Linked DNA regions of Homo sapiens: region 1 is linked to region 2. Evidence: fine-mapped expression QTL. A gene starts in region 2. The other region holds a variant in brackets. All regions are shown on one strand. Distances are between the middles of the regions. Region 1 overlaps CCDC167 (coiled-coil domain containing 167). Region 2 holds the start of LINC02520 (long intergenic non-protein coding RNA 2520).

Region 1 (5,378 bases), 12 kb after region 2:
TCAGCTGTCCTACTGTAAACAAGGGTCCTTATTGTGTTCTATTTAGTGCCCTGTTTTTGTTTTGTTTTGTTTTTTTCATTCTCATGTTTTTTATTGGTATTTCGCTGTGTTTTGCTTTTGAGACAGAATCTCACTCTCGCCCAGGCTGGAGTGTAGTGGTGCACTCTTGGCTCTGCAACCTCCACCTCCCATTCAAGTGTTCACCCCCACCTTCCCCCGACACAGCCTCTCTAGTAGCCAGGATTAGACCACCACCACATCCGGCTAATTTTTGTATTTTTGGTAAAGACGGGGGTCTTGCCATGTCGGCCAGGCTGGTCTCGAACTCCTGACCTTAGGTGATCTGCCCACCTCGGCCTCCCAAAGTGCTGGGATTAGAGGTGTGAGCCACTGCCTGATTTTGCTGTTTAAAGTGCCCCCGATCCCCGACCCCCGACCCCAAGCATAGGGCTGAAGTGCTGTCTGGCATTCCTAAATCCAAGAAGGCTGTGATGTGTTGTAGAAGAAAACAGGTTTTTTAGATAAACTGTTCAGGCATGATATAACTCATGATGTAACAGCACGTATAGTGCTGTTGGTTGTGAGTCCAGTGTTAATGAATCAACAATATATATTGAATAAGGTCACTTTAAACAGAATCACACATGAAACAAGGTTGCAAAAATGTTGTGTCCATAGGCTTGCAGGAACCTCACCTGGTTTGGTATTTGCTAATTCAATATTAGAGGCAACTTTATAGGACATAGCTACCAGGAACAACAAGAACCAACTGTATTCAGGCTAAGGTAGGAGTATGTAAATGAAGGAATATGTAAATAAGTGGGTGTGTCAGTGTTCCACTAAAGCTTTATCTGCAAGAACAGTCCTTAGACCATTTGGCCACAGGGCTTAGTTGCCAACTCCTGGTCTAGAGTACCAGGTCTATGGTGGTTCTGCCAGATTCCCTTCCTCTGTGGCTTCACCATCTCTTGAGATCTTGTCACCTTATCAGTGGAACCGGGGCATACCCCACTGATGTGTCCACCGGCAGAGAAAGAGGAGAATGGAGGAAGCACACCCACTGTCCTGGGCCCAAACTGTCCACTTTCCATTGGCAAGAACTAAAACCCCACCTGACTGCAAGGGATCAGGGAAATGCGTTCACCAGTCAGGAGGCCACATAGCCAGCTACTGTTTGCTTACTATGGAGGAAGAGACCAGTGTGTTTTCACAGACAGCCTGTAGTCTCACTACAGATGGCACCTCACCTCACAGTGTGGTTGTGAGGATTAAATGAGACATTGCGTTAAGTGCCCAGCACGTGCCTGGCACCGGATTGGTAATCAATACATGGTAGCTCCAGCCTTTGTATTTCTTTTGCATCCTTCCACCATGGCTAAGTCAAACTCGTTCTTGGGCATTCGTTCACTCATCTATAACATGAAGGACTTGAATTTCACCAGGGGTTACAAACTCCTTGACTATGGCCCAAATACAGATCACAGATGTCTTCTGTTTGGCTGACAGACTTTTAAGTTTTTATTTTATTTTATTTTATTTTTAGACAGGGTCTTGCTCTGTTGCCCAGGCTGTAGTGCAGCGGCATGATCTCAGCTCACTGCAGCCTCCAGCCTCCCGGGTTCAAGCAATTCTCGTGCCTTAGCCTCCCGAGAAGCTGAGACTACAGGCGTGCACCACCATGCCCAGCTAAGTTTTGTATTTTTAGTAGAGACGGGGTTTCACCATGTTGGCCAGCTGGTCTTGAACTCCTGACCTCAAGTGATCCGCCCGCCTCGGCCTCCCAAAGTGCTGGGATTACAGGCGTGAGCCACCACACTCGGCCGGATTTTTACGTTTTTAAACTTGGTGGGGCATGTATTCTCCAAGTGCCTTATACTGGGGCAGATTCCATTGTTTTACCCTCTCCATACCACGGTAGATGTTTATATTTGCTATCTTGGTCCCTAAGTTTACTTTTTGCTTGGATATTCGAAGATTTGACATCTGTAACCGTGTGCCTTGGAAAAAGCCTGACATCTGGCTGGCTGTCTCCCCACCTTGCTTCTCAGTTGCCCCCAGCGGGTCTGAGTATTGAATGTGCACTGATGCTCAGTAGCAGTAGATATTGTCCTCTTATTAAAAGTTGTGTGCTCAGAGCCAATGAAGTGGTGATTTAATCAAAAATGTTTGTTAATCTGACGAGTGCAATAAAACCCCCACAAGTGAGTGATCTCAGCACCTGCAAACAGTCTCCACTTGTAATGAAGCAATTACCAAGCAGGCAGCACTCACCCTTAGGGCTGGCTTGGGCCAGCTGTATAAGCAGCCACCTCTTAGGACAACCAGGGCACCCTCTAGCCTCCCCCTCAAAGTGGTTCCTTTTGAGGTCTTTTTATCCAATTCATTTGCCACCATATGAGATCTCAGAGTTGGAAAAAACTGTGAGTTTTAGCTTCTGAGATTTCATTCTTAATAAGAAAAGAAAATTATAGTTCAAATGAGAAATCACCCACCCAGTACTGATTTTAATGTTGTGTGGGAGGAAGGAAAGGTTGAATTTCAGTCTAAACTGATAGGAGAATTTTGACTGATGTAAAACCTGTTTGTGTTTTCGGATCTCTGATGGTAATGAGCTGTTCCTTTGTCATTGCACTTTTCTTTTGTAGCTGGACTGTTCAAACTGGTGTCTTTAGATGTTTCAGTGACCAGTTGGTCTTGAGTTAACAGATGTGTGGTGTCTTAGCCGGTATCCTAAAGTGGATAACTTGGTTGGATCTGACCCCTAGTACAGAAAGTTTATCAGTTTGGAAAGCTTTTGGCTACAAGTTATAGAAAACTGACCTCAATGATTTAAGCAAATGGGAGTAGACTTTTCCCCTTATAGAAATTTGTAGGGGCCAGGTGCAGTGGCTCACGCCTGTAATCCCAGTATTTTGGGAGGCTGAGGCAGGTGCATCATTTGAGGTCAGGAGTTCGAGACCAGCCTGACCAACATGGTGAAACACCATCTCTACTAAAAATACAAAAATTAGCCAGGAGTGGTGGTACACGCCTGTAATCCCAGCTACTCGGGAGGCTGAGGCAGGAGAATTGCTTGAACCCAGGAGGTGGAGGTTGCAGTGAGCCAAGATCGTGCCACTGCACTCCAGTCTGGGCAACAGAGACCCCGTCTCAAAAAAAAAAAAAAAATTTGTAGGTAGG[T/C]GGCTACTGGCATTGGTTCAAAAGCTTAGCTATGTCAGAGTTGGTATTTCTGCATTCTCTTCACTGTTTCCTCATGGTCACAATATAGCTGCCACAGCTCCAGTCTAATATTCAACTTTAACTCAGGAAGGAGGAGGAAGGAACAACACTGTCCCTTTTATCAACAAAGCATAAGCTTCCCCAGGAGTCTCCTAGCTGACTTCTGGAACGTCTCATTGGCCAGAACTGGGTCATGAGCAAGCCTAGCTGCAGTGAGGTTGGGAGAGCATCTGCTGAGCTTTTCCACCTTCTGGAGTAGAGGTGGGCAAAGGAGCAGGGGTGGGGAGTCGGTGTTGTGTTGGCCAGTTGACAGTATCTGCTGTAAGGAATAAATGCTAATGGGAGTCATTGAAAATTCACTGGAATCCTTACCAGAAAAAGAGGGCAGGATCGGCTGGGTGCGGTGGCTCACGCCTGTAATCCCAACACTTTGGGAGGCCCAGGCGGGCGGATCACCTGAGGTCACGAGTTCGAGACCAGCCTGACCAACGTGGAGAAACCCCATCTACTAAAAATACAAAATTAGCCAGGCATGGGGGTACATGCCTGTAATCCCAGCTACTCGGGAGGCTGAGGCAGGAGAATCGCTTGAACCTGGGAGGTGGAGGTTGCGGTGAGCCGAGATGGTGCCATCGCACTCTAGCCTGGGCAACAAGAGGGAAACTTCGTCTCAAAAAAAAAAAAAAAAAAAAAAAAAAGGCAGGATCACTGACCATGAGAAGTGGTAGGCTGAGGGGAGAGAATGGCCTAGGCCAGGAAGAGCACCGGAAGGCTTGACGCTTGTGGTTATTTGTATGGTGCCAGCCACTGCAGTAGCCTCCGTGGGGCAGGGCAGGCAGAAGCACCAAGTGTGGCTGAAGACGGTCTCCGCTCTGGAGCAGGCTGTGCACAGGGCTCAGGGGAACCTCCCACTTTCCTGAGACAAGGGCTAGGAGCAGGTGAGTGGACTGTCAATAAATATTTGCTGAACTGGCTCGATTGGCAGGAGGAGGCATTGAACCTTCCACCCTGACGTCTGGGCCCAGTTGAGTGGAGGTCACAGTAGAGCAGGCGGTTAGACGCCACCTTGCTGGGACCCTGAACCCCAAGCCAGGGGCTGGGAGAAAGGCTCGCAGCACGCAGAGGACTGTTCAGGGGCCGCTGACCATTAAATGAGCCTCACCTGCTGCCAGGCGAGAGCGACAGGTCGCCATTGGGCAGGTGATTTCTCGCGGCAGCCTACATCTGGCTCTGCGCCACTTGACGGGGGTCAGGAGACTAAAACCTCATTACCTAGCGCGGCTGGATGGCGGCGTGTGTGGAGTGGCTGTCTGCCAGCATCTTAATTAATGAATTCATAAGGCTCGGGGTGGATGCCAGTTCTTGAAAAGTGCTTTGAGCCTTTCAGCGATGAACAAGCTTTTGCTAGTTTATCAAAAAATAGATATCGGGGGGAAAGAAGACAAAACAAACCCCACACCACCTTCCGGCCCAGGGACAGCTGGCATCTTCGGGCGCGGACTGGCTCGGGCGCTAACTTGCAAGGCTGGCTCGGCCTCCGTCTCCTCGCGGGAAGGCGTCGGGACTCGCGTGGGCTGCAGCGGTTCCCTCGCCTTTCTGACCTGGCATGGGGGTGTGTCCAGGCGAGCGACAAGCCCCTAGGCTCTCCCTGCTCTTCCTGAAAATTGTTCATTGATTAAAAACTGGGAAGGTCTGCCGTCTTCAGCTGCACAACCTGCGAGAGAAATCCTTACAGGGCCTGTTGATGTGGGGAGCCATGGGCGGAGGTTTTTCTGCCCCCACAGAGCTCTGTGAGCCGCCTCCACAGAAAAACATCCCTTAAACGATGTGGGGATAATGGGCCCCTTGGGGTTTGAGGCTTGTCACCTGGAAAATTGAGGCCTAAGAACCCCGTGTGACTTGCTGTGGAGCCTGAAGGCTCCAAATGGAAAGCCCCTGCACTCTTGCCAGAGACCATCTGGGCAGGCACTTGGCTGCTTTACCCATTATAATAAATGTCCTGGGGTCTCCTGACGTGTGAAAATGAGTGAATTTTCAAAAATCCAGTTCCCAGGCTGCTGGGGCTGGAGATGAAACAGCTGACACCACTCTCCAGGCTGTGAATTAGCAAGTGAAAGGGAAGGCTTCGGTACTGCTGGGGAAAGAAGGGTTTATCAGGC
Region 2 (5,378 bases):
TTGTGAGATTTATCCATGTTGATATGCGTAGATCTAGATCAGAGCTCGGTAAAGTTTTCTGGAAAGGGACAGATTTTTCATATTTTAAGCTTTGTGGGCCCAACAGTCTGTTGCAGCTGCTCAACTCTGCCATTACAGTGCGAAAGCAGATACAGACAATATGTAAATGAATGAATGTGGCCACATTCCAAAACAACCTCGTTTACAAAAACAGGCAGCAAGCTGGATTTGGTCCATGGGCCATAGTTTGCCGATCTAGGCCATTTGTTTTCATTGCTGTGTAATATTTCATTGTATGACTACACCACAGTTTATTGATCCATTCTTCTATTCATGGTTTGGTTGAATTATCACTCCCAATTCTTTACTCCAGGACTATATAGGACTATACACTCAAACCCTTTGATGTACAGAGTAGATGGAGAATATATCCCCATCCCATTGACTTGGGGTTTGGCCTAATGGAATTTAACCGGGCAAATGCTAAAGAATGTGATGCAAAAGGAGAGTTTTTTTGTTGTTCTTGTTGTTTTGAGACGGAGTCTCACTCGGCTCACTGCAACCTCCGCCTCCCGGGTTTAAGCAATTCTCCTGCCTCAGACTCCTGGGTAGCTGGGACTACAGAGGTGTGCCACCACACCTGGCTAATTTTTGTATTTTTAGTAGAGAAGGGGTTTCACGGTGTTGTCCAGGCTGGTCTTGAACTCCTGACCTCGTAATCTGCCTGCTTCAGCCTCCCAAAGTGCTGGGATTACAGGCGTGAGCCACTGCGCCTGGCCACAAATGGAGGTTTTTAATGTGCTTTTATGGTTTAGTTTGGCATCTTGCGGTCCTGCCATTTGCCATAGAAGAGCATGTTCCCAGTAAGCTGTTGTCTCTTCAGCCTGAGTCCCCAAATGAGAGCTACTTGTAGCCAATGTGAACGTGAGTTCACCCCAGCTCACCTGCACTCCTGTGTGCAAGAAATAAATGTTTGTCATTATAAGCCAATGATATTCTTAGGATTGTTTGTTACACAGCTTTATTGCAGCAGCAGCTAATGAATACAATGGACATTTACGTTTTTGATTCTTCGCTGTTGCAACAAAGTTCACGCTCATATACCTCAACTGGTGCACAAATGCATCTTCAACTTTGCTAGTTAATGCTGATTTGCTTTCCAGACTTTTGTACCCACTTGGTTTTGTCAGGTGTCTGCTGATCTGTGGGTGTAAAATTCCATTGCCCATCTAACTCTTACTCATCTTTCTCTTCCTCTGGGCCTCCTTCCCTAATGCCCCCATCTGAACTGGGTCCATATACTCATTGCATCCATAGCTCCTTACACTTGCCTCTCTCACAGTCCTGGTATTGTATTTATCTGTTAATCTGTCACCATACAGACAGCCCCTGTCCCCCAGCCCAGGCACTTAGCAAATAATTGTTGAATGAAAGTTTCATGAGAAACTTCAATCAAGCTGGTCAGCTCCTGTCCTAGGGAATGTATACGCTGAGACAACTACCTTATCACAGGTACAGCCTTCATATCAAGGTGTGTCAAAGGACAGAGACTGATTGCTTTTCATGTGGTTATCACACTTGGGCTTTGAATGTGACTTGTTTTTTGCTGAAAATGTAATCATTCCAGGCTGCAATTACAGTAGCTAGAGAGATGTGAGTGAAAGCTAAACACTAAGGGTCTAAGAAGGTTTTGTGGGCAAATGCCATCTTTAAAAAGCAGGTTACTCACATAATAAATAGCTTGCATTGCTGCACACTGCTCTAAGCACTTTACACATACAAGATAAATATCAGAGGAGGAAACTGAGAAAAGCAACCTGCCCTGGGTGCGCAGCTGGTGAAGGCCTCACTGTAGCCACCATCCCCCACCCCAAGGTAATTGCGTTAGAGAACAAAGAACTTGACACCTGCCAGAACTACCCCCACCCCCACCACCACCTACCCCCAGCCCCAGCACCACCTACCCCGACCCCCACCCACCACCACCACCTACCCCCACCACCACCACCTACCCTCACCCACCACCACCTACCCCCACCACCACCACCTACCCCCAACCCCCAACACCACCTACCCACACCCCTACCCCCACCCCCCACCACCTACCCCTACCCCCACCCCCACCACCACCTACCCCCACCCCACCACCACCTACCCCCATCCCCATCACCATCTACCCCCACCCCCCACCACCACCTACCTCCAACCTTTGGATGGCATGAGTCTGGTGCATCTAAGGTCACATTTAAAGAACAGAGTTCTGAAAAATCCATGGGAAGACGTCTTTGCTGCCAGTCAGCATGATAGAAAAACATGGGTCTTGGAGCCGGGAGGCAGGTTTTAATCCAAACTTGGCCACAATCTTAATTTAGATTATTTTGGTTGTAAGGAAAAGAAATCAATAACTTTAATAACTTCAAAACTCCCAAAATGAAGCGGAGAGATGTGTTGTAAGGAATGGGTGGTGCTCTCGAAGGACAATCAAGGGTTGGAACCAAGAATTGGACCATTGATATAACCATGCTGTCATTCTGTCCCCTTCCTCCCTGGGCTAACTATGATCAGCATCTCATCCTAGGGTCAGATTCCTGGGAGTTAAAATCTGATTGGCCCAGCTTTGGTCAGGTGTGTTCCTCTGATCGAATCAGCTGTGACTGGGTAGGTGGGATCACACAAACCTCAGGAAAGGGGGCCTATTGTGAGCTAGGCAGATATTCTCTAGAAGGTGCCTAACGCAGTTACTAATTCACAGTAGACCTTAGGGAAGATACCTTCCTTCCCAGACTCGCAGTTCTCATCTGTAAATGAGAGATTTGATCTGTGTCTGGCTCATCATTACATCTACTATGCCTGTTTAATAAAGGCTGAGTGGACTACAGTGATCCCTATATTAGCTTCTGGTTCTGACCGTCTGTCTTTTAGAATTCTCATATGTAAAGTGTGCGGGTACAAGGAGCTGGCAGCGAGGGAGAAGACGGGGAGAAGGAGGGTGTGCTGACACTGGCCAGGGGTGCCTGGGGACTTCAGCTTAAGCAGTCTTTTCTCTGGACATCTTTCCAGAGCCAATCTTCTGTCCCCACCAAGCAGCATTCTGGCCAGAATCTGACTTCTCTAATAAACACTGTCCCTGGAGGGACAGTGCCCTTTATAAGCTATTAAATTGGCCTTCTGACAGTTGCCAACACAATGCCATTTGAGAAGCAAAGTCCAAAGTGGGGGGACTCCGGATTTGATTCTGGTGTCCAGAATCCAGACTCTTCCACTTATTACGTGACCTAGTGGGTCACGGCCCTCTAAGCATCACAGTCTTCGCTGCCCAGACAGATATGAGAATCTGTGTTCTGCCTTATTCATAGAACTGTTTGAGGGATATTGTGTATAAAATTATCCATAATAATTGAACTATATTTGTGGTGTGCTAACTAGATGCCAGGCATAGCGTCATATGCTGAAAAGGGTTATTATGTATAATCCTCACAAGAGCCTTATGAAGTAGCTGCTACTATGATCTCTGTTTCACAGATGAAGAAACTGAGGCTCAGAGGTTAAATAACTTGCCCAAGGTCACACAGTTGATGAAGAGCAGAGTCAGATCCACGCTCTGAACTAGGTTCTAGTACTTTTGTTTGTGGTCCAGTTGTAGATAGACACATTATTATTATTACTTCCCAGGGCCTAAGACCTCTCGGATAAGCTGAACATTGAGACCCACAGAGGTGGGAAACCAAAACTTGGACACCAGAGAAGCAAACTTCTGGGTTTATTCCTTCAGTCTAAAAACTACATGAATCAAAAAATCTGTGGGCTGTAAATGAAGTAACTCAGATCAAATTAGCTCACTCAAAAGAGGGAATTTGTTGGCCTCCACTCTCCGAGGGGCAAAAGTGAGGCTAGGGCACCTGGAATTCAAGTTTCAAACAAGCACCCCCAGGGCAGTCTTCCTCATTGTCTCTCATTGCTGCTGCCCTGTGCTGGCTGCCTGCCCTCTTTCATACTCCATGAGCTTCTTCTCAGGAAGAGAACACTGTTGCCAGCAGTTCCAGGATCACACGTCAGCTGCTCTGCAACCAAAGCTAAGGTGGGATTTCCTTTCCCAGCTACAGGTGAAACAAATCTCAGGAAAGGATTCTTATTGGCCTAGCTCAGATCATGAGTCCTCCCTTCTGAACTAATCACTATGGCTAGGGACATGTGGTTCTATGACTGGCTGCCCCGCTTAGATCATATGCCACCCATGTGAACAGTGGGAGTGGATCTGTTATAAGAAGGTGGGGTGGTTGGGGGAGATGGCAACACCGACGTGAACTCTGGGGGACTCTCTGAAGCCTGGGTCACCTCAATTTGTATCCTTTCCAACTGGCAAGAGCAACCTTGGTTTTCTCCTTCCTCAATCTATATCTACTAAGAAGTCACCTAATAGGCTGTTAGTTTCTTACTCTCGTTTTCTTCAGAAAGGCTCATATGGTCTTTTATACAGAGGGAGGGGGTGAGTATCCTCTTCTGCAAACTTTTCCATGTCTGGAAAATTGGGGCAATGGAGCCTGCCTTACTTTCCTCACAGAGGTATGTGAGGACCCACAGAGTTAATGGATACAAACACTGCTGTAGAAAGAACAAAGTGCCATATTTACAAACACAGGATCTATTTATTGATTTATTTATGCTCCTTTGTGTTTCAAAAAAGGATTTGAGGTAGCTTAGCAAAATGCACACAATATAGTGGGATAAAAATAGTAAGGGGATAGAGCGGAGGGAAAACACGGGTAGAAAAATCAAATAAAGCCAGGGAAAATTCTTGTACCTGGAAACTTATGCTCAAAGTCCCTGAACAAGTTTGGTTCTGAGCTTTCTCATGAACAAAGTGGGAAACATGATCAGTTACAAAAGATACAGTAGTCATAGGATAAGAGAATATCAGCATGCCAGGAAAGGCCACAGAGCTTAGCTCAGCACCAATGTCTGGTAGAAATTTCTTCTCATCAAGAGGATACCGCAGGGTGGGCCAGACTCGATGGTTCATGCCTGTAATCCCAGTACTTTGGGAGACCGAGGCAGGCAGATCATCTGAGGTCTGGAGTTCGAGACCGGCCTGGCCAACATGGTGAAACCCCGTCTCTACTAAAAATACAAAAATTAGCCAGGCGTGGTGGTGGGTGCCTGTAATCCCAGCTACTCGAGAGGCTGAAGCAGGAGAATCACTGGAACCCAGGAGGCGGAGGTTGCAGTAAGCTGAGATTGCACCAATGCACTCCAGCCTGGGTGACAGAGTGAGACAGAAAAAAAAAAAAAAAAAAAAAAGATGCTGCAGGGTGGAGTGGTCTGCATATTCAACAATATATAGAGATCCTTTGGTTTTCATGTCACTGGCTGTCTAATTC

The links. PIP is the estimated chance that this variant, and not a neighbour inherited with it, causes the effect.
Region 1: its variant is fine-mapped to the expression of LINC02520 in hypothalamus (GTEx, PIP 0.92).

What each region holds. Positions count from the first base shown.
Region 1 is chr6:37,492,596-37,497,973 of GRCh38, reverse strand. The region is part of intron 1 of CCDC167 (coiled-coil domain containing 167); the gene reads left to right. Among named protein-coding and RNA genes, the nearest start is that of CCDC167, 4.6 kb to the left of the region's middle. The variant T/C (reference allele first, on the strand shown) is at 3,181.
Region 2 is chr6:37,504,527-37,509,904 of GRCh38, reverse strand. LINC02520 (long intergenic non-protein coding RNA 2520) reads right to left here and starts at 2,557. Exons shown (of 4, transcript NR_126057.1): 1 at 2,201-2,557.